6 linked regions of the Homo sapiens genome follow. The protein of the gene in region 1 purifies or fractionates together with the protein of each later gene. This does not show direct contact. Each region holds a gene or a part of one and is shown on either strand. Other genes may lie near its edges.

What was found.
Region 2: the proteins of DACT2 (region 1) and MLYCD purify together in Homo sapiens (affinity purification with mass spectrometry; one large-scale study listed by BioGRID and IntAct). This does not show direct contact.
Region 3: the proteins of DACT2 (region 1) and SEL1L3 purify together in Homo sapiens (affinity purification with mass spectrometry; one large-scale study listed by BioGRID and IntAct). This does not show direct contact.
Region 4: the proteins of DACT2 (region 1) and IQSEC1 purify together in Homo sapiens (affinity purification with mass spectrometry; one large-scale study listed by BioGRID and IntAct). This does not show direct contact.
Region 5: the proteins of DACT2 (region 1) and PPP4R3A purify together in Homo sapiens (affinity purification with mass spectrometry; one large-scale study listed by BioGRID and IntAct). This does not show direct contact.
Region 6: the proteins of DACT2 (region 1) and ZBTB20 purify together in Homo sapiens (affinity purification with mass spectrometry; one large-scale study listed by BioGRID and IntAct). This does not show direct contact.

Annotation. Positions count from the first base shown.
Region 1 is NC_000006.12:168,316,190-168,322,217, reverse strand, and holds the start of DACT2 (dapper homolog 2), read left to right. Parts: upstream 1-2,440; 5' UTR 2,441-2,584; coding exon 2,585-2,830; intron 2,831-2,861; exon of another isoform or gene 2,862-3,034; intron 3,035-6,028. UniProt on the Homo sapiens protein: Involved in regulation of intracellular signaling pathways during development. Negatively regulates the Nodal signaling pathway, possibly by promoting the lysosomal degradation of Nodal receptors, such as TGFBR1.
Region 2 is NC_000016.10:83,903,826-83,909,114, forward strand, and holds part of MLYCD (malonyl-CoA decarboxylase, mitochondrial), read left to right. Parts: intron 1-3,161; coding exon 3,162-3,274; intron 3,275-4,300; coding exon 4,301-4,457; intron 4,458-5,289. UniProt on the Homo sapiens protein: Catalyzes the conversion of malonyl-CoA to acetyl-CoA.
Region 3 is NC_000004.12:25,855,380-25,860,668, reverse strand, and holds part of SEL1L3 (protein sel-1 homolog 3), read left to right. Parts: intron 1-5,289.
Region 4 is NC_000003.12:13,062,444-13,067,732, reverse strand, and holds part of IQSEC1 (IQ motif and SEC7 domain-containing protein 1), read left to right. Parts: intron 1-5,289. UniProt on the Homo sapiens protein: Guanine nucleotide exchange factor for ARF1 and ARF6. Guanine nucleotide exchange factor activity is enhanced by lipid binding. Accelerates GTP binding by ARFs of all three classes.
Region 5 is NC_000014.9:91,482,811-91,486,310, reverse strand, and holds part of PPP4R3A (serine/threonine-protein phosphatase 4 regulatory subunit 3A), read left to right. Parts: intron 1-580; coding exon 581-679; intron 680-3,500. UniProt on the Homo sapiens protein: Regulatory subunit of serine/threonine-protein phosphatase 4. May regulate the activity of PPP4C at centrosomal microtubule organizing centers.
Region 6 is NC_000003.12:115,136,338-115,141,626, forward strand, and holds part of ZBTB20 (zinc finger and BTB domain-containing protein 20), read right to left. Parts: intron 1-5,289. UniProt on the Homo sapiens protein: May be a transcription factor that may be involved in hematopoiesis, oncogenesis, and immune responses. Plays a role in postnatal myogenesis, may be involved in the regulation of satellite cells self-renewal.

The sequences.
Region 1 (6,028 bases):
ACCTGTAATTTGGGAGGCCAGGCAGGCGGATCACCTGAGGTCAGGAGTTAGAGACCAGCCTGGCCAACATGGCCAAGCCCCATCTCTACTAAAAATACAAAAATTAGCCAGGCGTGGTGGCATGTACCTGTAATCACAGCTACTTGGGAGGCTGAGGCAGGAGAATTGCTTGAGCCCAGGAGATGGAGGTTGCAGTGAGCCAAGATCGCACCACTGCACTCCAGCCTGGGCAACAGAGTAAGGCCCTGTCTCAAAAAGGAGGAGGAAGAAGAAGAAGAAGAAGAAGAAGAAGGAGAAGGAGAAGGAGAAGGAGAAGGAGAAGGAGAAGGAGAAGGAGAAGGAGAAGGAGAAGGAGAGGAAGAGGAAGAGGAAGAGGAAGAGGAAGAAGAAGAAGAAGAAGAAGAAGAAGAAGAAGAAGAAAAAAGAATCAAAAGACACAGATCAGCCAAAACAATCTTGGAAAAGAAAAAATTGGAGGACTCACATTTCCTGACTTCAAAACTTATTACAAGGCTACAATGATTGAAACAGTGTGGTACTGGCATAAGAATAGACATATATTGCAACGCAACAGAACTGAGAAACCAGAAACTGATTTCTGGATCAACTGATTTTCAACAAGGGTCCCAAGACAATTCAACAGGGAAAGAATTGTTTTTTCAACAAATGGTACTAGGACAACTGGGTATGTAAAAGAAGGGGCCCCTACCTCACACCATATACAGAAATTAATGCAAAATAGAACAAAGGCTTAAATGTAAGTGCTAAGTCTACAGCAAAATCTTAGAAATCATAGCTGTAAACTTTGTCTTTGGATTAGACAATGCTCTGTTAGATCACCCAAAGCATAAGGAACAACAACAAAGTAGATACACTGGAATTCACCAAAATTACAAACATTTTTTGCTGCAAAGGACACTATCAAGAACATGAAAAAAACTCACAACATGGAAAAATTATTTGTCAATCATGTATTTCATAAGGGAAGTGCAAATCATGTCTGATAAGGGAATTGTATAATGAATACTCACATCTCAATAACGAAAAGACAACCTAAATTTTAAAATGGGCCAAGGATCTGAATAGACAGTTCTCCAAAGGAAGTATACAACAAGCACATGGAAAGATGCTCAACGTCCTTAGCCATCGGGGAAACACAAATCAAAACCACAGGGAGATACCACTTCACATCTGCTGGACTAAAGACAGCGGTTGGTGTGCACACTGAGGAAATGGAACCCTCATACCCCGCTGGCTGCTGTGATTCCACTTGGAAAGCAGCCTGGCAGCTCCTCACAAGATTAAGCACGGTAGTCACCTACGATCCAGCCATTCCTCTCTTAGGTATAATGAAAACATATTGCCACACAAAAACTCATACAGGAATGTCCTTGCAGCGTTATTCGTAATAGCTAAAAAATGGAACAACTCACATGTCATCAGCAGATGAATGGATAAACAAAACTTGGCACAGCCATGCAGTGGAGTATTATTCAGCCACACAAAGGAATACAGTTCTGACGCAATCTGCAGCACAGACGCACCTTGAAAACGCTCACCAAAAGGAGCCCCCACAGAGACCTCCTGGCGTGTGACCCCATTTCCATGAACTTCCAGAACCTGCGGGGTGGTGGTTCTATGTGTGGGGGTGCAGGAGAGGGAATGGGGGTAGCTACCGATGAGAACAGGGTTTCTTTTGGGGGTGGTGAACACAACTTCGTTAATATACTAAAAACGAACTGTACACCTTAAATTAGGTGAGTTTTATGGTATGTGAACTGCATCTTAAGCAATTATTTTAAAAATTTAAAAAGCAAGCTGAGCAGCCTGGCCAACATGGTGAAACCCCATCTGTACTAAAAATACAAAAATTAGCCAGGTATGGTGGTAGGCGCCTGTAGTCCCAGCTACTCGGGAGGCTGAGGCAGGAGAATCGCTTGAACCCGGGAGGCAGAGGTTGCAGTGAGAGGAGATCGCGCCACTGCACTCCAGCCTGGGCGACAGAGCGAGACACTGTCTCAAAAAAAAAAAAAAAAAAAAAAAAAAAAAAAAAAAAGCGAGGTGCGGTTTCCAAACTGCAGATACCCATTGGGAAACGTGGGTAACACGGTTTTGAAATCTCTACTGCGTCTGTAATGGTAACACGGTCCTTGCAATGTGATAATGTCCCAATAGTTTATCTTTATAAACATTTTAAAACATTAACAAGCCTTTCTCCGCCTTTGTTCCACTTGCGCCTCTTTGCCCCTCTCCCCCGGGCTCCTCCTCCCGGCTGGCCCTCCCCGCTGAAGTCACGGAGGCGCTCAGCTGGCCCCGGGGTCTGGGTGCGCCCGCCCTGCCCGCAGCCGGCGAGGGGCCCTGGGGGGTCGGCGGGGCGGGTCCGGGGGAGGCCGCGGTGACCTCGGGGCGCGTGCAGACCCCGCCCTCCGCGCCTGGCCACAGATTCCAGCCCACCTTGGCGACCTGCGGAGCCGGGGGCGGAGAGAGGAGGCGCAGGAGGACCCGCGACACAGCTCGGGATCCGCGCGCGCTGGGCCTCCGGCGCCGCTCGTGGGGTTCGGGAGGCCGGGACCCTGCCCGGGAGATGTGGACGCCGGGCGGACCCCCGGGGTCCGCGGGCTGGGACCGCCGTAGGTTGGGCGCGAGGTTGCGCGCGGCGTTCGCGGGGCTGCAGGAGCTGCAGGGGCTGCGAGCCACGCAGCAGGAGCGGGTACGGGGCGCCCTGGCCCTGCAGCCCCCGCCCGCGCCCGCCGCGCCCTGCGGCCCCCACGGCCTCCACGGCCCCGAGCAGCAGCTGGAGGCGGCGCTGGCCGCGCTGCAGGAGCAGCTGGTAAGGACCGGGCGCCGGGACTCGGGGCTGCGAGGTGTGCGGGCCACAGGCGCTGCTCCTTCGGCAGCGACTGTGTGTTAGTGGGACGGGGGTGTCTGATGGATGGAGGGGACGTCCTTTGGGATTTGAATGGAATGCAGTTCGGTCTCCAAGGAGGGGGACATGGAGGCCCCGCGCGCAGGTGCCTAGAGGTGAAGCGCACAGGTGAGGACCCTGAAAACTGCCCGGGGCTGCAGCCCGCGCTCCGCCGTGCGTGGATGTGCGCCTACCCACGCCAGCATCCCGAAGCTGGCAGATTTGGGAGAGACACCCTGTTCGTTACAGGGTTACAGCACTGATCTGACCTGCAGGCACTGACCGGCGTTCCCCTGGCGGAGGTCGGCTCGGGATCCTGGCATCACTCCCCCCCCGGGGACCAGGTCCCCCCTGCTGTCTTGGGTTAGGGGCAACAGTGTCCGCGTGGTAAAGCGCACCCCGACTTGTCCTCAGGAATGTGCTGACTTTTCTTAAGGTCGCGTCACTGTAATAAAGTATTGGGGGAAAGCATGTAACTGACAAAGGCCTCTTCAACTTTAAAATGTGACCTGACCTGTAAGGAGAGGCGTGTCCTCTGATCCAGAGGAGAGAGACTCTGATTTCCCTGCCACGGGCCCTCTTCAGCACTCCCTGGGCGCTCTGAACCCCTCCTTTCACACAATGAAAGGAACTCCACTCATTACCCCTCTGCTTATTATGTTATTGTATGATTTTGTTAAACTTACTGGAAACAACTCACAAGCGTTTTCGTAGTTGCTGTATTTTCTTAAAGACAAACTAAAAAGGCTGGAGAAAGATATGTTTACTTGTGTTACCTCTGTTACACTAAGTGAAATTTCTTTTACATTAGAAATTTAAGTCTGTCCTGTTAAAAGTTACTGCCTTTAAATGTTGCCCAGGTGAAGCTGCGGCATGACCGTCTGCCTCGCTCGCTCAGCCAGGTTGTTAACATAGCAAACCCTTCTGGATTAAAGAATCAGGAAGTCCAGTGTCTGGGACGCCTCCCAGGTTCCCCGTTATCTCCTGACCTTGTGGAAGACGGAGGTGGTAGACTGTGTGGGATTAACCTGGGCCCCCAACTCTGCCCCTGATGCCTCCTGAGAGGAAAGTAGCTGGTGTACAGACTTTGTTTACTCACCCAGTGACCAAATCCTGGCCGTCTGTTTAGGTCGTTTGTGTGTTTGCACCAGACACAATCGCAGCCTCTGTGTGACCTCAGCTCAGCACACGACAGCCACAGACGTGTTACACATATGTGATGGGAAGGGAGGTGCTGCTGAGATGTTGTGTGTTTGCACCAGACACAATCGCAGCTTCTGCGTGACCTCAGCTCAGCACACGACAGCCACAGACGTGTTACACACATGTGATGGGAAGGGAGGTGCTGCCGAGATGCTGTTGTGTGTTTGCACCAGACACAATCGCAGCTTCTGCGTGACCTCAGCTCAGCACACGACAGCCACAGACGTGTTACACACATGGGAAGGGAGGTGCTGCCGAGATGCTGTTGTGTGTTTGCACCAGACACAATCGCAGCTTCTGCGTGACCTCAGCTCAGCACACGACAGCCACAGACGTGTTACACACATGGGAAGGGAGGTGCTGCCGAGATGCTGTTGTGTGTTTGCACCAGACACAATCGCAGCTTCTGCGTGACCTCAGCTCAGCACACGACAGCCACAGACGTGTTACACACATGGGAAGGGAGGTGCTGCCGAGATGCTGTTGTGTGTTTGCACCACACACAATCGCAGCTTCTGCGTGACCTCAGCTCAGCACACGACAGCCACAGACGTGTTACACACATGGGAAGGGAGGTGCTGCCGAGATGCTGTTGTGTGTTTGCAGCTCAGCACACGACAGCCACAGACGTGTTACACACATGGGAAGGGAGGTGCTGCTGAGATGCTGTTGTGTGTTTGCACCAGACACAATCGCAGCTTCTGCGTGACCTCAGCTCAGCACACGACAGCCACAGACGTGTTACACACATGGGAAGGGAGGTGCTGCCGAGATGCTGTTGTGTGTTTGCACCAGACACAATCGCAGCTTCTGCGTGACCTCAGCTCAGCACACGACAGCCACAGACGTGTTACACACATGGGAAGGGAGGTGCTGCCGAGATGCTGTTGTGTGTTTGCACCAGACACAATCGCAGCTTCTGCGTGACCTCAGCTCAGCACACGACAGCCACAGACGTGTTACACACATGGGAAGGGAGGTGCTGCCGAGATGCTGTTGTGTGTTTGCACCAGACACAATCGCAGCTTCTGCGTGACCTCAGCTCAGCACACGACAGCCACAGACGTGTTACACACATGGGAAGGGAGGTGCTGCCGAGATGCTGTTGTGTGTTTGCACCAGACACAATCGCAGCTTCTGCGTGACCTCAGCTCAGCACACGACAGCCACAGACGTGTTACACACATGGGAAGGGAGGTGCTGCCGAGATGCTGTTGTGTGTTTGCACCAGACACAATCGCAGCTTCTGCGTGACCTCAGCTCAGCACACGACAGCCACAGACGTGTTACACACATGGGAAGGGAGGTGCTGCCGAGATGCTGTTGTGTGTTTGCACCAGACACAATCGCAGCTTCTGCGTGACCTCAGCTCAGCACACGACAGCCACAGACGTGTTACACACATGGGAAGGGAGGTGCTGCCGAGATGCTGTTGTGTGTTTGCACCAGACACAATCGCAGCTTCTGCGTGACCTCAGCTCAGCACACGACAGCCACAGACGTGTTACACACATGGGAAGGGAGGTGCTGCCGAGATGCTGTTGTGTGTTTGCACCAGACACAATCGCAGCTTCTGCGTGACCTCAGCTCAGCACACGACAGCCACAGACGTGTTACACACGTGATGGGAAGGGAGGTGCTGCTGAGATGCTGTTGTGTGTTTGCACCAGACACAATCGCAGCTTCTGCGTGCCCTCAGCTCAGCACACGACAGCCACAGACGTGTTACACACATGGGAAGGGAGGTGCTGCTGAGATGCTGTTGTGTGTTTGCACCAGACACAATCGCAGCTTCTGCGTGACCTCAGCTCAGCACACGACAGCCACAGACGTGTTACACACATGGGAAGGGAGGTGCTGCCGAGATGCTGGCTTCAACTGTTCTGTCAAGGGGGTGGGAGTGCAGGTGATGATTAACTT
Region 2 (5,289 bases), on another chromosome or scaffold:
TCACCAGGATATTCCCCGCAGTTGTGTTTCTCAGTCTTGTATTGGTGATAAATGGTGCCTGAATTAACGCACGTACAGTTGCAGAGGCCTCTTTCCCTGGTGGTGTTTGTATCCTGGCAACGTTGCCGCGTGCTGTGGCTCATCCCAGCCTGAACAGCTGCTGCCGGTGTTAGAACTGAGCAACGGAGACTTCTAACCTTTAGCCTGGATTCCCAGTTCTCGTGTACCAGTGTCACATTTTGTAGCTGTCAGGAGCCCAAAATAGAATGAAGAGATCTGTAGGGGAGGAGCTTTCATCAGCCAAACCATTTCTTTCATAATTAATATTAAATTGATAGTAAAACTAGGTATTTCCAGCTTTTTTCATATCACGAATGTAAGACAGATACCAGTACCTCTTACGCAGAGCTCAGCTCATCCGTTCCTAAACTGGGGTACAGAAGCCCTCCTGGCCCCTGGGATGGTCCATAGATAAGTATCAGAGGAGTCCATGTACCCCAGGAAAACGTATGCACAATTTTACTAATGTATTTGCAGTGTTTTGGGGGCAGGGCCTATGGTTTTTAGCACGTAAGAGTGTGAGAGGATCCCAGGAAGATTAAGAATTGCTATAGTCAAATGCAGAAAGTACAGTTTTACAAAGGGCCATTCTGTGTCACCTAGCAAATGATCTCTTTCATCCTGCCCTCTTGCTACTTCCTAATCACGATTCATTCCATTTTTCCATCTTTTTCATTTGATATCAATCTATTAGTGAATGCTTTGCGAACTATAAAAATGAATCAGAAGTGGATCCTGCTTTTATGGCGTTTACAACCAAGTAAAGGAGATTGAGTCATGGAATGTAGAGTTAAAAGGAATTGCAAAGATCTTCTGGTCCAGCTGTCTATCTAATGCTTAAATCCGTTTTCAAACAGCTCCGTTGAGTTCTGTCCACCTGTGCTTGATGGCTTCCAGTGCTGAGGGTCACCGTCTCCCAGGATGACCTCTGTGGACAGCTCCAGCTATTCAAAAGTTCCTCTTTACACTAAATTGAGTCCACATCTGACTGCCCATGACTTCCACCAGTCAGTCCTAGATTTCCTTCCCCGGCCCCCATGGGGTCACACAGAACAAATTTGTGGCCTCTTTCGTGCCCTAGTGCTTAAACATGTAAAAGGAGACCTCATCTCCTTCCGAAAACTTCTCTGAGCCATCACCCCAAAACCTGCAACTCTTTCTCAGGCGTCAAAGTTCTGAGTCCTTTCACCCTTTAACAGGGATTAAAATGTAAAATTGTTTTATAAAATTTGGAAGCTGAGACAGGAGAATCGCTTGAACCTAGGGAGCAGAGGTTGCAGTGAGCCAGGGTTGCACCACTGCACTCCAGCCTGGGTGACAGAGGAAGACTCCATCTCTCAAAAAAAAAAAAAAATTCTAGCTGTTGTAAAGCCATTCTTATAGGTGTTGCCCATTGTGTTCTTTATGACCCTTGTAGAGAGATTCAGAAGGTCATTCTTGTATCAGATGTCCTGAGATGTTTACTGTTATTTAATAATAATGTTCAGTGGATCTGTTACTATGTAGTTTATGAGTAACAAAGACCCAAAATAACAGTGATTTGAATATGACAGAAGTTTGTCTGTCATGTGAAAGTCTAGAGGTGGGCAGCCCAGAGCTGATTCTGCTCTTTGGTGCTCTTGGTGGATTCAGACTTGAATCTTGTTGCTCTGCCGAGAAAAACCTTCATCTCCAAAGCCACGTCGTGGCCCAGGATGGCTGCTCCAATGCCAGCCATCACACCGCCTTCCAGTCTGCAGTGGAAAGGACAAAGAAAAAGATGGGCCAAGGGCCTGCTCCTGCTGTCTTTTCAAGTTCCCCAAAGTGGCTGCAGGAGACCTCTGCTTACCCCTCATTGACCAGAACTCTGTCACATGGCTGCCCCCAGCCGCAGTGCAATCTTTGTTCTGGACAGCTGTGTCCCTAGCTGAAAAGTGAGGCTTCTGTTAATTTGAAAGAAAAGGGGTACAGCCATCGGGGAACAACAAGCTGTGGCTGTGCAGGCAGCACCGAGGCGACGCTGCTCCTGCTCAGGGCCTTGTGTTCTGCTCTTGCTGGAAAAGCTTCAGTGCAGATGTATCTTGGGTGGTCAAGTCAATTCACATCATTTTTGGAAGTAGATACAATATAAATAAGTGAGGCAAAATTAGGATAATTTCATCAACTCTGAAATGCATTGGTTGCCAGATACGCTATTATTTTATGTCCCTCTAAGGTAGGTTAAAAATGCTGCCAGTTACGGCGGGGCACAGTGGCTGACGCCTGTAATCCCAGCACTTTGAGAGGCCGAGGCAGGCAGATTGCCTGTGCTCAGGAGCTCGAGACTAGCCTGGGCAACGTGGCAAAACCCCATTTCTACAAAAAAGACAAAAAAAAATTATCCAGGCTTGGTGGCGCTCACCTGCAGTCCCAGCTACTTGGGGGGCTGAGACAGGAGGACCACATGAGCCCAGGAGGTCAAGGCTGCAGCGAGCCGTGTTCATGCTGTTGCACTCCAGCCTGGGTGACCGAGTGAGACCCCGTCTCTTAAAACAAAAATGCTGCCAATTAGTCTGTGACCCGCCATCATTCGAAAGATGCATCCTGACTTGAGAGATGTTAAAATATGAAAATGTACATCTCTGAGTTGATGAAATAGGGTTCCTGAACCAAGTACTTGTCTTTCTTAGGAAATGTAGGCGTAATGTTTTGACGTATCAAAGAAGGTTCCCGAGAGGATGAGGACAGTGCTGTTGACACCCTTGCTGTCTTAGTGTTTCCCTTACAGTGCATCTTTCATTGTTATGTTGATTTTATATGATTAGTATGCTCACTATGGTGAACGAATTGGAAGATATTATTTGATTTGGGCAACTTAGTTCAAATTGAATTGTTTCCTTCAGAGGTCTTAACAGACTGAAGTAGTTAAGTCTAAATAGAGCGTTGAACGAAAGAAAGCCTGACTTGGTTTGAGATAAGATGTCTGACAGAGGAATCTTGGGAAAAGCTGTTTGGAGAGTTGTCTTGCACAATTGTCTTATGTATCGTGCTTGAGTGTTTTCATTCCTTGTGCTGACCACAACACAGAGATGGGCTTGATCTGTCGCACATTGGAGGCCTGGGATTTATCTTCTCCTTTTCAGGAAATGAATGGGGTGCTGAAAGGAATGCTCTCAGAATGGTTTTCCTCCGGGTTCCTGAACCTAGAACGGGTTACCTGGCATTCACCGTGTGAAGTGCTTCAGAAAATCAGTGAGTAAGTATTACGGTTTTCATTTTCTTTGTACATACATTTTTCATATATATTTGTGTATGTTTTATATTGGCTAAAAGCTAATCTATCTCCATTCATATGTACAGTTTATTTCAAGTCTAATAAAATCCAAACACAGTATTTGCAAATGCTGCGGCTGTCACCACACATGATACTAAGATTATGGAGGAAGACGAAAGGGCACCAAGAGAAACTGATATGTCTGTCAGTGACCTGCGTGTGAGGTCTTATTTGTGTCCTCTTATTTAAAGCAAACACACCCATTTTCGCTCGTCCCAAGACCCCGTGATCAGAGTTGTAGAAACTCACTGGACCAAGCGTTTGCATTCGTAATCAAAACAGTATTTAGCCCACCTGGTGGTTAAGATTTCTCCCTGAGTTAAAATCTCTAAACAAACTATATCATGTGTTAGTTACATCCAGGACCCGTATGACACAGGCTAGCATGTCACGGTGCCTTCACTACCTTTGCACGTAGGCATCTTCACATTACATGTTGTCCCATGGAATCCATGGTTTGAAAAGTGTCCTATTTGAAATGTAACCAATTCAATTCAAAGGGCTGACAGTGCCTGCTGCCATTTCACATGCTGAAAACAAAATAGCGGTGGGGCGAGATTGCTGGAAGACACCAGATGAGCCCCCTGATTGCAGCACTGACGGCTTCACAGAGATCCCAAGGAAAGAAAAGACAGTGTTCAACACCAAGCGTTTGATTAGGTTTCACGTTAAAATCTGCATGAATCCTTCCCCGGAGCCTCACAAACTCCTTTTAAAACTGGGGTTAAAACTGGAGCACAATTTTGTGTGTAAAATGGTCATTCACTGTAGTTCCTCTCAGTGGGTGCTGTTTCTCATGAAAATGACTTTCTTTGAATTTTCCAGAAGAGTCCATTAAAGCTCTATTTAAAGAACTTGTTTGACTTAGACGAATAGTATGAATAGGAGTCAGCAGCCGTTGCTTGTGAATTATGCATTTGTCTTGTCTCTTTATAAATTCCGCCCCAGGGCTGAGGCTGTGCATCCTGTAAAAAACTGGATGGACATGAAGCGCCGCGTTGGGCCCTACAGAAGGTGTTACTTCTTTTCTCACTGTTCGACCCCTGGGGAGCCCCTGGTCGTTTTGCACGTGGCACTGACTGGTGACATCTCCAGCAACATCCAGGTACCTGCGATGGTCAATTCGGGACAAGATGGGCACCCCATAGAGCCCCTTGTGTTTTTTGTTTTGTTTTGTTTTTACTTGATTTTATCCTCCTTTTTTTTTTTTTTAAATAAATGGTTTTGGGCTTTTTTAAATTGGTTAAATAAAATCTCCAGATTTGTAGGTGTAGAGCGTAGAAGTGTAACAGGCAGACAGTTATGGAGCAAGGCGAGCATTCATCTGGCTGTGTTGATCTTAGGTTGAGATACAGTTAAAGTCTATCACAGAACATGTTTGTGAGGCAGAAAATAATTGTGAAGGAAGAAGGGACAGATACCTGATTCATACATAGTTTACCTTTACAGCTTTTGTTAAATGCCTGTGGGGAGTTTTGAAAGATACTTGATTAGAAAATTGAAAGAGGCACTCCATCCCTTATGCTTGATGTGGGCCGAGGACACTCCTTGGCGAGTGGAGGTTATGGGACTTGTGGTTGATAGCCCCGTCTGTGGCAAGCTGCTCTGCTCCTGGATGAGTTTGGCAAGAATGTCTGAAACACTCCTGCAGGCCCGTGGGGGCAGAAGAACCAGGGAGCACATTGCAGGGTCTGGAAATAGGAGTGCTAAAGATAGGTGGCAGGGAGCATGAGACCCCTGGGGCATTGCAGGTTTGCTCAGACCAAGAGGACATGAGTGGCTGTTAGGAAGCTAAGTGGATGATGGCCCATCACAAGATGAGTGCCCTAAGCAGGTGTCCTGCTGAGAAGTTAGAGAAGCTGAGTAGGGCAAATGAGCAGACATTCCTGATCACCAAGGAGAAACACATTCCCTTACAATGTTTGTGTGTGAAAGAG
Region 3 (5,289 bases), on another chromosome or scaffold:
CTGTACAAGACAGACTTTGATAAACAAGAGAGCCATTTTGCAAAGGACACAAAAGGCCGACTTAAAAGGTAGTCTCCACATTTTGTTCTGAAGATCTAGCCGTTTACTAGGGATGTTGCTCTTGGGTCTACACTACCCAAGATACTACTGAAGGCAAGGCTTCTTGATCTTGGAGAAGCTTGGTGTGAGAATTGGGGAAAATGTAAATATCCATATGAAACACTTGAAAAACATAAAACAATAGAGAGAAAACGCAAATGTATAATTGTGTGCATTTTGCTCAATCAAGGAATGCTACCTGGAGGAAGTGGTTGGTCAGGGGGATGGGGCTGGGCAGGTGCAGGGTAGAGATGGAGCAGAATAGCTGGGCAGGATCCCAGGAATATGTAGACTCTAGAGGAGGAAAGGTCTTTCATAATTTGAAAGCCTACATGGTAATAACGATAGCTTACATTGTGCTATACATTGTGCTAAATCGTTTATAGGCATTATCCAGTATTTATCTTAGCAACAGCCCTCTGAGGTAGGAGCTACTATAATCTCCATTTAGATGAGATAACAGAGACTCAGAGAGGTTAAGTTAGTTGCCCCAGGCCATACAGTCTGAGATTGAAACCCAAATCTGTCTCCCTCCAGAGCCCCAGCTCTAAACCACACTAGCTTATTGTCTTCTGGATTTTGCTGCTTGTAACTCATTCTTCATCGATGTACGGGCCATTAGCAGAGCTCTAGCAATTAGCAGCTACTGTGCAATTGGCCAGGATGTGAGGTCATGTCTAAAGTAATCTAAAATATACAAAGCAGGAAGCGCAGGCCACAGAATAGAAGCAGGATGTTAAAGTGGGGAAGAAAGGTAAAGCCAGAAAATATTTGCCATCGTTAATGAAGAGATAAAGGTTTGGGGTTTTTATGTAGTCCAGAGGCAGCTGGTAGAGTTTAGCATTTGAGTTTGGATGAATGTGCATACAAGTGTACAGCAAATGTGCCTTGGAATGCATTCCAAAGCCAAATTGCCTATGATTTGGGGACCAGTTCCTGTTTTGTGTTATCTTCACCTATTTGCCTGTTCACAAGGGCTGGAGGTTGAGAGCAGCTTCTGAATAGATGCCTTTAAGCACCTGCCCTCACAGGGAGCATGCTTCCTGGAGTCAGGGTCCTGAGGAGTGGGTGCCTTCCGTCTCCATAGGCTGGGACGGAGTAACCTTCAGTATCAGCTCAAAAAGAGTACTGTGTCTGTAGCTAGGATACTGCCAAAGCATGAATAATTGTGATGAGGGCTGAAAGATAAGTCACGGAACGATGCCAAACAGATTTCTGAAAAGATGATCCCTGGTTCCAGTGGCTGCCAGAAAATTCTGAGGTCACCAAAGGCCAAGATGCAGAGAGCCTCCTCAGAGAGGGAGAGGGCCTCGAAAGCAAAAGATAATGAAATTGCTTCCACTGAGGTCGCGGGTGCTGAGTACTGTGCCCCACGCAGAACTTTCCCTGCCCAACGGGCCTTCTTGCTATTTTCTTACACCATTAACTCTTACCTTCTTCCAACTTGGCTAGAACCAGCCTGAGGCTGCCCCAGCTCTCTATCTGTGATAATGGCACTTCCAGAAAACAATTTTGTTCGTTCTAAGCTCTGGTCTCCAAAGTATAATATTTTCTTATATGAAAAGATAAATCTCAGGATGGCCAGTATTGATGTCAGCTGTCAGTTGAAATGTTCGGAGTGGATAGCTGCACTTGTTAGACAATCAGACTGAGGACAAAGAAGTAAGAGGACATTAACAGCACAGAGGCTGGGCGCGGTGTCTTACGCCTGTAATCACAGCACTTTGGGAGGCCGAAGCAGGCGGATCACGAGGTCAGGAGATCGAGACCATCCTGGCCAACATGGTGAAACCCCATCTCTACTAATAATACAAAAATTAGCTGGGTGTGGTGGCGTGCACCTATAATCCCAGCTACTTGGGAGGCTGAGACAGGAGAATTGCTTGAACCCAGGAGGGAGAGGTTACAGTGAGCTGAGATCGCGCCGCTGCACTCCAGCCTGGCGACAGAGTGAGACTCTGTCTCAAAACAAACAAACAAACAAACAAACAAAAAAATCAAAAAAAACAAAAACAAAACAACAACAACAAAAAAACAGAACAGATACATGTGGGACAGTTAGCAGACAGCGGCTGTGACAGAGCCTTGTACAGGATTCCCTGTAAGTGGCCACACACCCTCGGTCATCCATCTAAGAGTATTCATTAACCCCTCACTATGTGTGCAATGCAGAGCATGAGAAGATCAAAACGAGGTAAAGAGATCTGCAGTTATCTAGCTTGAGGGAGAGGTATTATGAATATTTGAAAATAGAGATCATCCCCAAACCTCACATCAACCAATAGCTTCCATATTCATCCTGACTGGAGCTCCTAAAATTTCCCAAGCCATGGTGTTGGCCTCTTGCCTTCTATTTCTTCTGGCTGCCTGTTGGCAAAAGCGTCAGAGCTAGAGGACAGGTAGGAGAGAATAACCCAGGCAATTCGCTGGAAACATGGATAGACTGGAGTAGACCGTAAATAGCCTAAAGTGAATTCAGTTACCCTGTTTAATGGCTCATGCCATTCCCCTGAGAAAGGAGCCGAGGGGCAGGAGGCGTGTTCGGCCCATGAGGAATGGCTGATGGGATTCTGCCTTGGCAGGCCTTGTTTCCAGTCTCTACCTGGAGAAGGGCTTAGTTATACTGGGGAGCTGGCTGAGTCTGGTGTTTGTGTGTTTGTGGTTAAGGCAATATCTGTCTCCTCCAAACTCAAGGCATGCCGGCATAATGGCATTTTAGCCCCAACCCTTTCAAGATGGGAATAAGGAAAGTCATGAGATTCCCCAACCCTGTAGCCAGAAAGCGGTGACAGGTGTATAAAGGCAAGGACGTGAGTTGAGGGCATCATCTTTGGGTGTTGTTAGAAGACAAGAGGCACACCTTCCCTGGCTTTGGAGTCAGCCAATGTGGATTTGAATTTTGGTTCTGCTTTTTGGTAGCTGGTTGACCTTGGGCAAGTTACTTACCCTCTCTGAAGGCATTCCATTGCCTCAGCTGTAACAGTGGGATGCTGTCTCCCTCTGTGGGTTGTTGTGAGGATTGGGTTAGAAGTGAGAAGTTCTATGAGGTCCCATGTGAGAGGTGGAGGTTAGAAGTCAGAGAGAGAAAAAGGTTTAACACACCCATCCCAGTGCTCAGTACACAGTAGGTACTCAATGAAATAAGAGCAAACCAAGCTTAGGTAGCTTTGTGTGATGTAAGTTGGGAAGAAACAGCATATTAAATAGTATGGGGGAGAATCTTACACAACCAGGAATATTGATCATGACTGTGATGGTGTGGCTCTGGCCAGCTCTCAGGTTTAGGAGGGAATAATACTCAACTGGGAAGTTCTTCCCTAAGCACATGCTGATTTTGAAGTCTGTATTGACATCATCATCCATTTTGCTTAATTGCATGCTTTGTTGACCTAAACAGAATTTTTGCTTATATCTAGTAGACAGAAATTACAAAAATAGGCCCTTTAAGGCAAGACACTTACCTTTTTGATCTAGGGAAAATGTGATCCAGCCAGTTTGAAGAGAAAGCCCTCATGAGCCACAGTTTTCTTAGAAGAATGGGGCAGAAAGGTCAGGAATGAGAAAAACAGTTATTGTTTTCTTGTCATACCCACCCACAGACATGTGTACATGCCAATGAACTTCCCGTAGCAAGATGTGGATGATTTAAAGTTTCCCAATCTCTCTGTTCCTTCCTTAAATACCAAGTGGAGACCAGATAGAGAACAAAGCCAAGTTTTCTCAGCTCTTTGAGCAAGGGAGGGTTATTTGAATAGCATCTCTTCTTATTGATTTTCTTAAAGGAATCAAATGCAGTTATCCTAAAAGAAGTTTAGGTCATATTGATAGTTTTATTTTTCCATCCAGAATATACATAAATTCATCTGTTTCTTGATTCCCAGGCTGAGTTCAATGCATTTAGATCTCCTATTTGGGGTCTTCTATCATGAACACACATTAACTGGCCCATTTCTTTGTTTTTTTTTTTTTTTTTTTTAATTACAATACATGCACATTTACACAAAAGCAAGAGAATCTGTGTTTTGTGACTGTGCATGACGTTGTCAAATTTGACTTTGATGAGGGCTCACATCTGGTATAAACATATTTGAGGGCTCAAGCATTTTTCAGGGCCCAGCTCTGTTGCGTGCAAAATGGATCAGTATGTTGCTTTCAAGGTGGAACATCTATTGTAGCTGCCTAAACCACATAATTTGAGGGGCACAGATGCCCCTCTTCACCCCAAATATCTTGCTTAGAGTTGCGGTGCATTTAGACTGTGCTTTTAAGGCATTATCTCCACAAAGCTGGTGTAGAAATACAGATACGTGACCTTACCTCAGTATTTTTTCATTATCACAGTAACATGGATGAACTTGCCAGATGAACAGGAATTCAGCAGAGGGTCGAGGGATGAGAAATCTTAAAAATTTAATTTGTATTTTTGGTGTGGAGAAATGGAAACGGTCTAGAATGTAGGGCAGTTGTCTGAAAAGGTCTAGAGGGACCAAATAGCTGGGAGAAGTTTGCCCCAAATGGTTAAGGTGGGTGCCAAGGTGCCACCTTCTCTGACCTCACAGTTCCCCAGCTCAGCTCTGATCCCCAGGGACCAATGAGGTGCCAAAGGGTAAGGGCTCTTTGGAAGGAATTAACGAGGCTGGGAGAAAAATAGAGAAATGATGGGGGCCCCTTACAAGAGAACTTACGAGTATAAGAAGAAGGCAGTGGGGACTCAAAACTGATCAAGTCATTTGGTTTATATGCAAGTGCCCTCAGGGCCACTGAGGCACCTGGCAGAAATGCCCATGCCCAGTGCTTTTTTTTTTTCCTGAGACGGAATCTCGCTCTGTTGTCCAGGCTGGAGTGCAGTGGCACAATCTCGGCTCACTGCAACCTCCACCTCCCAGTTTCAAGTGATTCTCCTGCTTTAGCCTCCCAGGTAGCTGGGATTACCGGTGCCCGCCACCACACCTGGCTAACTTTTTTTTTGTATTTTTAGCAGAGACAAGGTTTCACCTTGTTGACCAGGCTGGTCTCAAACTCCTGACCTCAGGTGATCCACCCGCCTCGGCCTCCCAAAGTGCTGGGATTACAGGCATGAGCCACCGTGCCCAGCCCCAGTGCTTTATTTCAGCAAGAAACACTTACTAAATTCTTACTGTGTGTCAGACTCTATCTTAGAAGCTGGAAACATAACAATGACATGGACTC
Region 4 (5,289 bases), on another chromosome or scaffold:
TCTGCCTGACTCCAGACCCTGCTCCTCCCCAGCCAGATCTGTGTGCCCTTGTGGGTGGGGCCAGTGGGCACCCAGTGCACAGAGATGGGATGAGGAAGGGAAGGAGGGTGGTCAGGGGGCCCAGGTGTTGGGGGACCTGACGCCTTACCCTGAGCAGGTTCCAGATCTCTTGGCCGCAAGGCTCTGTCCCTCCCCACCCCTTCCCCACTGCATGCACTACCTGGAATGTGTTGGTCACTGCCACTGTGGCATGGCTGCCCCCAGCCTGCTTGTCCTGGGTGCTGAGGGTACTTGTCCCACAGTGGCTGGGAGCCCCCCACCCAATGCCTGTGGACCAGACCAGTTTTGTCACCACCAGTGGGGGCTTAGGAGGCGTTGCTCCTGGGTGCTGGCTAAGCTGCTCCCAGGCTTACCTTAGAGCCTGCTGCTTTCCCCCAAAAGCCTACTGACGACACAGCCCCCGTCTGCCCTTCCCGCTCTTTCCAGCCTGTTGGATGGCTCCTGTTCTCTCAAATCTCACTCTTACCCCCAGGAGGCTCCCTGCAGGCAGAGTGGATGAAAATATCCTGCCCCTTGGTCTCTGAGGCCCTGGCCCACCTGGGGCCTTACAGAGCAGGACAAGGAGGCTCCACTCCAGCTCTGTCCCTGCCTCACTATGTGACCCTGGGCAGGCTGCTTGCCCTCTCTGGGCCTCTGACCTCATCTGGAAAGTTCCTGGTTATGCTGCGACACACAGGGGACTGGGAGTGGGAGGAGTGGTGTCTGCCAGGCACAGCAGCTCCAGGCATGCTGGCTCATTCACATGGCCCCATCCTGCCGATCACTCACCCATTCATTCACTCAGCCCACCATGGTCACTGGACATCTAGTCCACGTCCTGACACACGCCAGGCCTGTGGGCTACGCCTGTAAATGGACCAGGCCCGCCCTGCCTGCATGGAGCTACCGCCCAGAGAAGGGACACAGTAAATAAGACCTGGTGGCACCTGCCAGAGCGGCTCCTGGATACAGCTGGGAAGAGAACGGGGTGGGGCAGTGGGCGCCCCTTCCTGCACACACCCCTCTCTCCTCAGCCGCTCTGGGGCCTGAGGCCCTCTCTCCTGGTCCTCCTGGCCTCCCACGATCCCACAACGTTCCAACTCCTGCCCAGCCCTGCCTGGAAGGCTCACCCTGCCACACTCTTGCCCATGCTGGCTCCTCTGCCGGGAGTGCCCTTCTTCCCCTTCACCTCAGACCTCACAGCCCAGCCTGTGCCTCTTTCCTGACTCCCCCAGGCAAATGGGCCCCCTCATAGAGCTCCCGCATGGCGCGTGGCGAGTCCTCGCTGTGACAGACACAGTGCCGGCCCCTCTGTTGTCACCAGCTGCCCGGAAGTCCTGCCTTTGCTTTCTAGCATCCCTGAGGGGCCTGGCCTGACAAGGTACAAATCACCATTTTTAAAATTGTGGTAAGATAGACAGAAAACTTCCTTTTTTAAAGCTGAACACTGTTGCGTTGTGCAGATCGACCACATGTTTGCCTTTTTTAATTACACACATTTCAGCGGCAGTAAGTGCATTCACAGTGCCGTGCAGCCAACACAGCATCCATCTCCAGAACTTCACTTTCCCAAACAGGGCTCTGTGCTCTGTAAGCGCAGACTCCCATCTTGCATCCCCAGCCCCTGGCACCCACCATTCTGCTCTCTGTCCCTGTGAATATGACTGCCCTGGGGATGTCATGTGAGTGGAATCAGACAGCATTTGTCCTTTCCTGACTGGCTTACTTCACTTAGCCTCATGTCCTCAAGGTTCATCCCTGCTGCGGCAATGGGCAGAACTTCCTTTTTAAAGCTGAACACTGTTCCATTGTGCGGATGGACCACATTTTGTTTGTCCATTCACCCATTGATGGACACTGGGTTGTTTCTGCCTTTTGGCTGTTGTGAATAGTGCTGCTGTGAACATGGGTGTGCAAATACCTCTCCGAGTCCCTGGTTCCATTTCTGTTGGGTGTATACTCAGAAGTGGGATTGCTGGGTCAGATTGTGATTGGATGCTGACTGTTTTGAAGAGCCGCCATACTGTTTTCCACAGCAGCTGCACTGCTTTACCTTCCCTCCACCACTGCACAAAGGTCCTGGTTTCTCCACATCTTCGCCATCACTCATTACTTTCTGTTTTTCTTTAATAATAGCCATCCTAATGGTGTGAAGTGGTATCTTGTGTTTTTAAATTTCCCCCTCTTGAATAAAAGTGTGAGTGATGAAGTTTAGCTTACAAAAGGGATGGTTACGTCTTTGTTGTTTTTCAAATATAGTCATATAACTGAGAGATTATTCATCCACATGGTACAAAAAAAGGCTGCACATATTGTCTATTTGGTTCCCTTGCTTCTTGTTCTTCTGCCCAGAGGCCACGGCTGTGTCCAGTTCCTTTGGGTCCTTGGTGAATTTCTGTGCATTTATATGTGTGCTTCATCATTGAAGTGCTCCCTCAGCAAGCTGGTGACACAGAGCAGTTTAGTTTTCCCACCACTGTTTTGTGGTTTCTGGATTTGAGCCAATGAAACGCTCAACTTGGGGGATGTGTGACCAGCCGGCCCCTGCAGGAGGTGGTGGTCTCCTTCCATGGGAAGCCCTGGCCAGCTGCTTGCAGTGGGGCCTCCATGAAGGAAGCCAAGCCCTGTGTGTCTTCCCCAGGCAGGAGAAGGGAGGCTGGTGGGACTGGGCCTGAACATTCCAAGATGAACACCCCCACACATCTCCAGGAAGCCTATGCGTCAAGCCTTCATCATTGTCACCTTAGCTGGCTCTCCGTCCAGGTCAGTCCTGGGCACAGTTATCAGCATCTCTTTGACAGTGGGCCCCAGATTCAGGCAGAGCTGCCAGAGGGCATGTGGGAGCAGGGCCAGCCTAGGTTGTGCAGGACAGGCCCCCACACCAAGAATCCACACAGATATTTATGGGCATGAAAATCTGCGAGCAACTATCCGAGTCTGGTCCTCACTCCTCTTGACATCTAAACCACAAAATGCATTTTGTATGATTTGAATATGCATTGAGTTTTCCAGGAATGCAACTGCTCTCGCAGTCGAGGGAAGATCAGACTCTGATATGTTCGGAGCTCAGCCAAGAGCTGCCACCATTCAGAGCACCACATCACCAAGGACAGCATCTCTCATGGTGCCAGAGTGCCCAGTGAACTCCAGCATCCATCTGGGTTTGTGGTCGCTGTCACACGACCAGGCAGGTGACTATAGGGTAGGCCCACCCACGATTAACATGACAAATTACCGTTTATTTTATTCTAAATTATTTTCCTCTTTTTTTTTCTCTGTAATTTTACCATTCAGCCATTCTCTTGGTTCTGTTTTAAATATGTGTGTGGATGGATCACATGAGTCATCAGCTTCATTTGAGAAGAGAGAAGAGGATAGTGCAAAGCTCTGGATTTAAGGAGCGGGGTGCTGGACAAGGGATCTTTGTGGTAATGGAGCTATTGTGTATTTTGACTGTGGTGGCACTTGTATGTGCCTGTATGTGTGTGCATGCGTGTGTTTAGTTCTATGCAGGCGTATCATGTATGCAGGCTCCACGGTACAAGCAAAATCGGAAAGCTACCTAAGATGGGAGGACAGTGCAGTGTCAGAATCCTGGTAGTGATGGATCCTATAGTTTTGTAAGATGTTACCATTGGGGGAAACGATGTATATAAGATCTCTCTGTATTGTTTTTTGTTTTTTTTTTTTTTACAACTGCAAATGAATCTACGATTATCTCAAAATAAAAAGTTTAATTTTTAAAAGGTGAGGGTGGGTATCAGGTCTGACAGGCTGAGATCCCTGGTAATTGAGGACAGCAGACAGCCAGTGACCTCCCAGTCTCAGTTCCTTGGTGGTGCACCATGGTCACCAACCTCTACTGCCCTCCACTCCCTGACACCTGAGACACCTTGGGCCCTTCTCTCCAAGGCTGCATCCCACCAGGGGCACTGGGGCCGGCCCCTCACCCCAGAAAGGAAACACAAGTCCCTTTTGCTGCCAGCTGGGGCCTGGCTGGCCCCCAGGGGTTCTGAGTTTCAGACCCTGCTCTGCCAGCAGGCAGTGGTTTCAGCTGGCTGATGGAGCAGAGGTCTTATCCATTGTCCCCCAATGCCTCCCAGAACCGGGGCCCCAGCCCCAGCCCAGGCCTCTTCTCAGGTGGGCCTTCCTGCTCCCCTGGGCTTGCAGAACAGCCCTGCTGACGGCCACTCCTGCCCTCCTCTGCCCTGTGCCCGCAGCATTCCTGATGACACAGTCACCATGCTTGTCTGTGCCTCCTGCCACCACAGTGGGCAGCTGGGACAGAGACAAATAACATTCCATCAAATGCCATTTTGAAGACAAAAATGGACCAGTCAACTAAAGCTAAAAGGTTAAGGGAAGGAAGCAAGTACTTTTTATGACTTTGTCATTCTACAAATTGACTGTTCTATGAATTAGCTTTCAGTGAATTGACTTGTCACTGGTTGAAGGAAAGCTGGGACATGGCTGGTGAGGTTGTGGGCAGGACTAGGGCAGTGAACAGGGCAGTGGGGAAGCCAGGCTGGGCGTGGTGTCGGCTCTCTGAGGGGCCAGGCTTTGCCCACTAGACTGCCCAGCCCAGGAGTCCCGGCTCTCCCTCCCCTGTGCATCCCATTTCCTGAGCATGAGCTTGGGATATCAGGGCTCTGAGGAGCTGGGGCTGCGCCAGAGATGCCCGTCCCCCTTTATATCCCATGGCGTGACCTTGCCACACTGGCCCGACCTCCGAAGGATGAAGGTCCTGTCAGAGCAACCCCTGTGGCTCAGCAGGCGGCTGACCTGAGCGTGGCTAATAGAAAAATGTTTTATTGGCACCGATGGCTTCATCCCTCATCAAGATGTCCCTGACATCTGCTTGGCATGGTTACTAAGGGAAGTGATGCATCTTAAATCACCAGGGCCCTGGCTGAAATTCACTGCCTGTATCTTAAGGCTCTCATTGGCCCCACGATAACACCGAGCGTTTTCCTCCCATTTGCTCTCCACCATCAGATAAAAGAGAAATGCCCTCAAGTCTCTCCAACCCCCTTCCTTGTTCGGGTGTCTGTCCCCTGGCCATCTCTGGGCTGCAGAGAGGTCAGGCCACCTCAGAGGAGCTCTCCAAGACCAGGTGAGCTCAGCAGATGTGGGGTCCAAGATCTGGGGGTAATCAAGACCTTTCTCTGTGCCTCCCCTGCCAGGACCCCACCCCTCTCCAAGGAGCTGCTCAGATGGAACTCCTTATGTGCTGCCCAGTGTCTGTGTGAC
Region 5 (3,500 bases), on another chromosome or scaffold:
AGGTGCTAGGAGTTTGCTGCTTCTTGAACCATAGCACTTTGCTAAGTTTAAAAAAAAAAACAAAAAAACCTATGTATAGGTAAATGCTCACGTACTACAAATGTAGCCAATAATTTCAAGGGCTTCATGGACCTCAGAGGCCCCTGGTGAAAAACACCTGCTGACAATAGAGGGAAGAGAGAAGGAGTTTTATTAACCCTATCGTCCTAACATGCCCTAGCTATTTTATGCTTAGATTTCCTCTTTGGACATTTTAATGACAGCATAAAATGTAAGTCAGTATGCTCGGATAGCGTTGGTATAATTGGTATAATGTTTTGTTTTTATCTTTTGCAATGCATGAAAAGAATATATTTCATATATTGGTTTAAGTTGTCCTTAAGGAAACATTATTTTTGTTTTATAGATTGGGGGAAGTGAAGTGTAAAAAGTCATTGTTTTGAAAAAGAAAGACATTGATAATTGCCAGTATTAGTGTTGCAAAAAGTAAAAATGAGCACAGTTTTATTTCCTTTTGTTTGTTCATTTTCGTTTGTGATAGTGTATGTTAATCATTCAGACTCCTTTTATGTCTCCAAAGGACACTCTGATTGTGTGGTCTGAAGCAGAAAATTATGACTTGGCCCTTAGCTTTCAAGAAAAAGCTGGATGTGATGAAATTTGGGAGAAAATATGTCAGGTAATTTTTTAAATAAAAAAATCAACATGCTTTCTTTAAGTGTTTAGTTTTTTGCCATGCTTTCAACTAATGCCCAAGAGTTTAAATAAATTTCAAATTGATCTTTTAAATTCACTGCTGTCTTTGAACTTGATTTAAAGGAAGGTGTAATTTATTGACACTAAACTCTCTAGCTCATACCTTTGCTGAACTCCAGTGTTTTATATCCACCTGCCTTTTTGAAACTTTCTCTTTTCATGTTCACTAGCATCTCAAATTTAGTACTCCAAAACCAAACATAATCTTCTCACATATATCTATCCCATCTCCTTCTAAGTGCCATGCAGTTGCTGAAATCAGAAACTTGTGGATCTTGTTTATCCTTCCATCATCGCTTTTATCCATTCAGTCCCTCGATAATAAATCTAGATCCATTGGCTTATCTTCATTTTTACTTTTGTAGTTTTCCAAGCCACCATCATTTCTTGCCTGGTTTATTGGTTTTGTCTTGACTGATCTTCCTAAATCAACATTTTAGCTAGAGCAATTAGGTGATCTTTTTAAAAATGCAAGTCTGATTACATCACTCTTTGTTCATAACTTCTTGTGGCTTTTGAAAGAAAACCCACCCTTGTACTTGTCTTGAGCAGTATGGCTGTTGACTGACTATTCAGCCTTACCGTGCCTCTAGGCTCGAATGTTCTTAATTTATTCTGGAGTTTCCCTAGTGACATAATCACAATCTTTTGTGAATTTGCATTTGTATGTGCTCTAGTAGCTAATGCTGTTGGCTCTTGTTATACACTTCTTAGGCCATTTCTTTCTAGAGAAGGTTTCTCCATCTCCATGTTTACTTTATCTAGAGAATAATCTTCACCAGATTCCTTAATTCCTTTGAATGTGGCCCTCAAACCAGCAGCACAAGCATGACCTGGGAACTGATAGAAATGCAAATTCTGAGACTAGCACCCCTCCCGCCGACCCCAGACCTACTGGATCAAAAACTGCAAGTAGGGTCCAATAATTGTTTTTTAAAATCCTTTCTTAGGAATTCTGTTTTCACAAGCCCTATAGGCCAGACTTTTCTCTGTAAAAAACAAGATAGTAAATATTTAAGGCTTTGCAGGCCATATAGTCTCTGTCACAGCTAGGTCACCTCTGCTGTTCTAGTTCGGAAGTAGTCATAGACAGCACATAAATGAATGGAGGGGCTGTCTTCTAGTAAAACTTTTATTTACAAAAACAGGTGGCAGACCAAATTTGGCTATGGTTTGTCGCCCCCTGCTTTTGGTGATTCTGATGCACCCTAAAGTTTGACAGCTATAGCATTCATAGAAGATATAGTGTCCTTAGCACAGTTTTTCCTTGACTTAATGGAATTTATTTCAAGAATATATTCTACTTCGCTGTGCTTTTCATAAATTAACCTGTCTGTTAAGCTGTCCCTTTCCTTCTCTGAAACATGAAAGGACTAACATTTATATCTGAATACCATCCATCTTTTTAGTTTTTCTTTGCTTTCCATCCAACAATTATATTTATAGCATATGTCTCTAGATTTTGTCTTGTAGTGTTATCCCAAAGAGAGAGAGGTGACATTAATGAGTTCAGGCTATGTTAATAGCATCTGTTATTCAGACAAATCTTGTTCTCCTCTCTCATCTTTCTGAATCAAACACTTCCACTCTGGATACAGTCTTCCTTTATGCCAATGTGTAACTCAAACCTGAACTCACTTTGTCATTGTCATGCCTGGCTCTCCTTTAATATTGTCTGATCTTTACCTTTGTTTGGTCTTTAATATCATAAAGTTTTTCATCATCTTAATAATTTTATCACTAGCTGCTTTAATATTCTTTTCTGATACTCCCTTTCAACTTTTATATAGTTTATGTTCAAGGTGTCATTTCTCAGTCACTCTTTTTATGGGTTCTGTCTGAACTTCTCAATCATTTTCTAGATCCAAGAAAGTCATTACATTTTGCTCTCTGAGATATTAAATGTTTTTCTATTTCTTGAACCATGTTCACCAATTTGCTCAACTCAAAAAGATGGCATTCTTAATATAATAAGGGCACTCCTCTCTTTTCATTTGGTTTGCTAATCAAAATCTAACATTTTTCTGTGGATAAAGTCATAGTTTGGGTATCAGGAACTTAAAACTATAATGAGAGCTTACATAATTAACAAATTCAGAGCCAGTGTGAGACCATGCAGGTACAAGCCATGAATGTGACTTGCCTCCTTTCAGTGCTGCTGTCCACTTGGTTGAGGTCAAGACCATATCACCTTGCAGCACATTTCAAGAAAAGTATTCCAGGTCGTCATCTTTTCTAGTATCTATCAGTGCATCTGTTCATTACGCTAAGCAATTTAAGTTTCTTGGCTTTTCCATATAAGGTCTAATTTTTTTCATTGCTTTACCATTCTACTTGGCCTTCTACTTGCTTTAGTGTTCACTGTCCCAAATTCTAGGGCCAAGATAACAAAATTTGTTTCATTTCAAAGTTTATCCTTGACCTTTTGTTACCAAAAAAAATGCCTTACTTTAAAATGTAGTCAATATAAGTTACCTTTTTATAATAAGAGCCCCTCCAGTGGCATAAAATTAGGTTTTATGACAGATTTTCAGGCTCCTAGAGGGATCATGAAGGCTACAGGTTAGGGTGTGTAGAAAGGAAAATATTTTCGTGGTTTGGTTACTTAACCTTCAGCAGACCTTTTTTGGGAATAACTCTACTACATATAGGTTGTATTTACTTTATATGTGGCTTCATTTTTATGTAGGTACACTTGTATTCTGCCTAGTGTTTTTTAAATCCTGTGTTTGGGCTGTCAGTAT
Region 6 (5,289 bases), on another chromosome or scaffold:
AATAATTTTCCCAGGATAAGTACAAAAAAGCCTGATCAACATTGAATTCCTCCTGTGTGCCAGATATTAGGCTAAGGACTAAAGCTATAAAGATAAATAAAGCATGGTACCTGTTGTTAAGGAACTGCAGTTAAGTGTACTATAATTCTAAATGTTACCTTTCCTAAGTGATGAATGTCAAAGAATTTAAGTTATAAGTTAAACTGCATATAAAACATCACACTGAATCAAACTCACTTTACACCAGATGCACCCATTTGTGCATTATAAAACTCATCATTACACATATAAGACAGAAACAGAGTAATGCATACCCCAAATGACAGAAACAACCATTTATTTTTGGCTCTTATACACTTTGGTAATTCGCTTAACAACAAATGTTGAGACTGTAATGTAGAATATTTGAATCAGAAGAACCTAGAATTTTGTTCATTTTTCCCATACTGCTTTTCAGCTCAAATGACCCCTTTAACACAGTATTGCCTTGCTCTCAATCCCTTTCTAAAACAAGAAAGATTATTAAAAACATGAGTGTTCAAAGGTATTTCTCTGAGGGTCAGATGTATAAAGGACAGTGAGATACAAACAACATAGCTGTTAAGAACACTAGGTCCCACAGGCTATCAAAATTACAAGAACAACAGAGTACCACCGATGATGAACTTGAGGAGAAAGGTGCCATGCACTAACTGAATGTTGATAATTTTTCTAACTTTAAAATACATTTTTCAGTGATGTATCCATTTGAATTATATAAAATGATTATTATACTATACTTCTTAATGCATTAAAAATAAGAGAATAAAGAAAATATCAGATATTCTCATAAGGAACAGTAAAGACACATAAGGGATGGTATAGCAATTTCATTATTCTTTGACTGCATTCAGATGATACAGCTTATATTTGTAATATAGCTTAACAGTAAACATTATCTTTTGAAAACTTTTTAAGTTTTTAGTACCTTGTATACAAAGGGTATATGAGTATGTATGTATACATGACAGAAGTACTTGGTTGGAGGTCATTTAAATTATCTGCAATAAAAATTCACTTTAAAGGTTACTATAATTCCTTTTAATTCATGCATGCTGACTATACTAAATATAATCCAAAGTCATGTACACTGACTTTACCTGAACTGATTTGAGACTACTACTCTGATAGAAATGCATTTACACTATCAGATAAAATTAAATCTTTCTTTCAGTATAGTGACAAATCAAGGAAAAGTTAAAGTACATAATAAAAGTCTAGACTGTATTCCACTCAAAGCATAGTAGAGGCTGTTTTAAAATTCCATGAATATGGGAAGGAGGAGACAAAAGCTAAATTCCATAATAAATAAAACAAAATTAAGGTATATAATATTTTACCCCTCATATCCATCACATCCTCAAGAAAGTTAACAGATGTTTTCCTGTTTTTGAAAATTGGACAGCAAACAACAATGTAGATTATAAATGTTCCTAGAACAGTGATTTCCAAATTGGGTGGCACACAGTAGGCATTCAATAAATGGCTTACCACACAGATTGTGCTACATTGCATATCTTTGTCATGCACTTAAACTTACTGCCTAACTCTAGGTTAGGACTGATGATCATGTTTTTGTGCCAAAAGCATAGCAGTCTTTGTTTTCGAAACTCTCAGTGACCCATATTTAAGCCAGCTATTGGTTTCTGAAACAAATGTTAAGGGCACAAAGAACAAACAAACACAAAAGCCTTCCAAAGTCATAGGATTTGCTACCCTTTGAATATACTGTTTCTAGTCTCCCTCACCCCTATTTCTGCATGATACCTGGTTCTTGGTTATTCAGTCGGGTTTGATTTAGTTTTCCTTTTTGACCTCTACCTTCCCAGAACTTTCAGTAATACTTCCTTTGTCCTGCTCCTACCCATGATTTCCAAGGCCTGCTTTAACATGGTACCCAGCTCCACTGTTGCAAATAGAACTAAATCAGGCAGCAGTTAGAGTCTATTCATTGTACAACCTTTAGACAAATTCTCTATCATCATTTTTAATTCTAGACTGAAGAGTTATATTTTAAAAAGATTCTATCACAGCAACCATTGTTCCTACTTACAACTCTTTCACCTTGTACCCTTCTCTAGAACCTTCTCCAAATCTATGCCTTTCTGAAATAAAATTGCCATTATTAATCTGGGCAAGCACTGAGTTAAAATCGTCCCAGAATAGTGGTCTGATGGGGTGGTGATTAAGAGCTTAGGTTCTCCAGAGCTGTACTTGAGTTTAATTTCCCATGTGTTTTATACTTAGCTGTGTGACTTTGAACAAGATACTTACCCTTTCTGAGCCTTCGCATATCTTTAAAATTGGGATAATAAAGGTACCTGTCTCACGGGATTGTGGAATTAACTGAAAAAATGCAGATATAACCAATGACTGCAACAAAGTAAGATCTCAGTAAATGTTGGCTACTATTGGTGTTGGTGGTGTGATTAGTATTCCTGTTTAATACAAGGATAGAATGCATTTACTTTTCACTGTGCTTCCCACTAATAATTTTGCTAGTCTTTTTGGTACTCATGGCTTTAGAAGAGTTACAGTGATTCTTCAATATGTATACTGGGTTTCAGTTAACACTAAAACCAGCTTCCCTTAAGCACATTTAGAATATCTTTTCCATTATTTGCATGCATTGAAGCATTCATACCACCTTTTGGGTCCAACAATTGATCTAAAATTATTCTTACAATTTCTCCTGATTAGCTAGATGTTTGGTAAGCTAAAATAGCTTACCATCATCTAACAGACAGTATATTTTGGCTACGAGGTGATTTATAAAATATTATATGATCAGTACCAGGAACATCTGGAGCTGTGGGTGGATGTGAGGAAATGAGAGGATTCAGGATAGTATAGCTTCCTGCAGATTGCTGTTTCCATCTAAGGTAATGTTAGATAGCTTTAAGCCTTTCACTACCATTCATACTAGCAAAAAGGATGAGTCAATTAAACAGAAACTGAGAGTAAAATTTTAAATTAGAACTTTGAGGTTATCATTAAAGATATATCAAGTAGGTATATAGAAATTGTATATAGTTGTTTCTTTCAATATATAACAGGACAATATTTGCAAAGTCTTTTCTAACAGATTCTTTCCTAGTCAGATTTCTTTGCCTACCTTATCTTCCTTCCTATGTAAATCTATCTGTGCATGGATATAATATAAGATCAAAAACTAAATGCAGTAGTTAAAAATTACCAATTTTATAAGATCTGCATGGAGGTGGTTCCTGATTACTCAATGTATACCTATGTTTTGCTTAGAGAAGAGAATCACAAAACCAAATTTATCTTTTATCTTTGAATAAATGTATCTATCTATAGATTTTATAGAAATAGAAAAATGTGAGTTGATTCATTCTGTTGTTACCTGCATCCTCAATTTTAACAACTTTATGCTGCATGAAATGCAGAGTCAAGTTTACAAATTCTATTAGCAATACACCTTCCTGAGTTAAGATGAGTTGGCAAAGTATTTATGTAAACTAATAGATTTATTATACTTACCCACTATGAAAGATTATAAGTACTTAATATCATATATCTATACTTTACTAGTGTGCTATGTTAGAAAGCATGTATCATTAAAATTAAACTTTTATAAAAGACTAAAAGTGGAAAGCAAAGTCAAGTATTTTACATATACTGTTTCTAGGTGTCCTAAGCATCAGTTTCAGTAACACTACCAGAAGCTAAAATAACAATTCAATTGTTGAAGGAAACAAACTCAGATGATTAGAACTGAAAATGACCCTAAAAATGAAAAATCTAAGGTGCTAAGGTGGAGATCCGCATAGATTATGCAACATGCCATAGATCATGTAACTAATTAATGGCCGCAGTAGAACTAGAACAACCTCTACTAACTTCACATCTGAGATTTTTGACAATGTATAACAAAGAGTTGAATTTAATATATGAGAGATTGAAAAGGTAGATATTGTCCCCAAGTTAAAAATCTTTGGATGTAATTACTTCTACTTACTTAATTTTATATTCCTAAGACGACACATTTAAAATAGCATAAAACTGTAAAAACTCGTTAGAAGTAATGAAAACTACAAACAAAATTTATGCTTTATCTTAAATCAAAACCATGGAAAAGGCCATTTTCTTTTGTCTAAAGGAAGCCTGAGATTTACTGAAAATGTGTGTGAGTGCGAGAGAGTGTGTATGTGTGTGTGGTGGTGGTAGGGGTCTTTGTTTTGTTTTGTTTTGTAAATTGTTAGAGATTGTTCTATTAATAGTTTCCTTTTGTAATGGTAATCTGTGCTCCAAAATGAGGGCACACTAAAATGAATTTCTGATAATTTATAAAGCAGTGAAATACAAATACATTTCTAGAAACTTACTAATGACAGTAAGAAAATGGGTACCAAGAGTTTCAAAATTAAAAATCAAAATCTTTTTAATATTATGTTGAATTAGAACATCTTTTTAAAAGCCAAAAGTAATTGAAAAGAGATTAAATTGGTACACTCAACTCTCTAAACTGTGTGTATATTTTTCTTAAAGTGCATATCTGTGAGCTGACAGTAAAGACAGGCTGGCTGCTTTGTTTGACTATAGTTCTGTTTACCTCATACTGTCAAGAATGGATTTTGACACAGTATTAATATTGCTATTTTTATTGATATAATTAGCACTGCTATAAATAATTTCTTGTGCTGCCATATGTAAGTATATCATTACAATCAGCAGTATTTAGTGCTTTTCTTATATGACACCTTGAAAACAGACTGTTGGCCCAAAGAACAAAAGTGACCTCATGATATGGGAATCACTGAAAAAAACATTGCCCTGTCAATAGAGACTACTGTTTTGTGTATGACTTCACTAAACAAACTAGTTTATATTTGTTTGAAACTAAAGTTTCTCACCAATCTGCTGTTTCAATTTCACATCACACCATATTGTACCTAAAACAGGCAATCTGGATTCCTGTTGCTACTTTTTCTTCCCCCAAACAGCTCAGGAATGGGTTTGAAATACAAGGCTTGAATACATAAAGCAAAATAATTAAGACACCCAAAATTCAGAATGGGTGGGTGAAAACAAGTACACTTGAAACCATTTGTGTAACTACTAGTGGGTGGCCCACTGTGAGTTTTTGATTATATGAAAGCAAAATCAAAACATATTTTATCTTGCCTCTAGATCACATCAGCTGTGACAATAACCTCATCTGGACCTTGAATAGTTTGTTCATAAAACAAAGTAGGGTGACTGACCCAGTGCATATTCAACACAGAG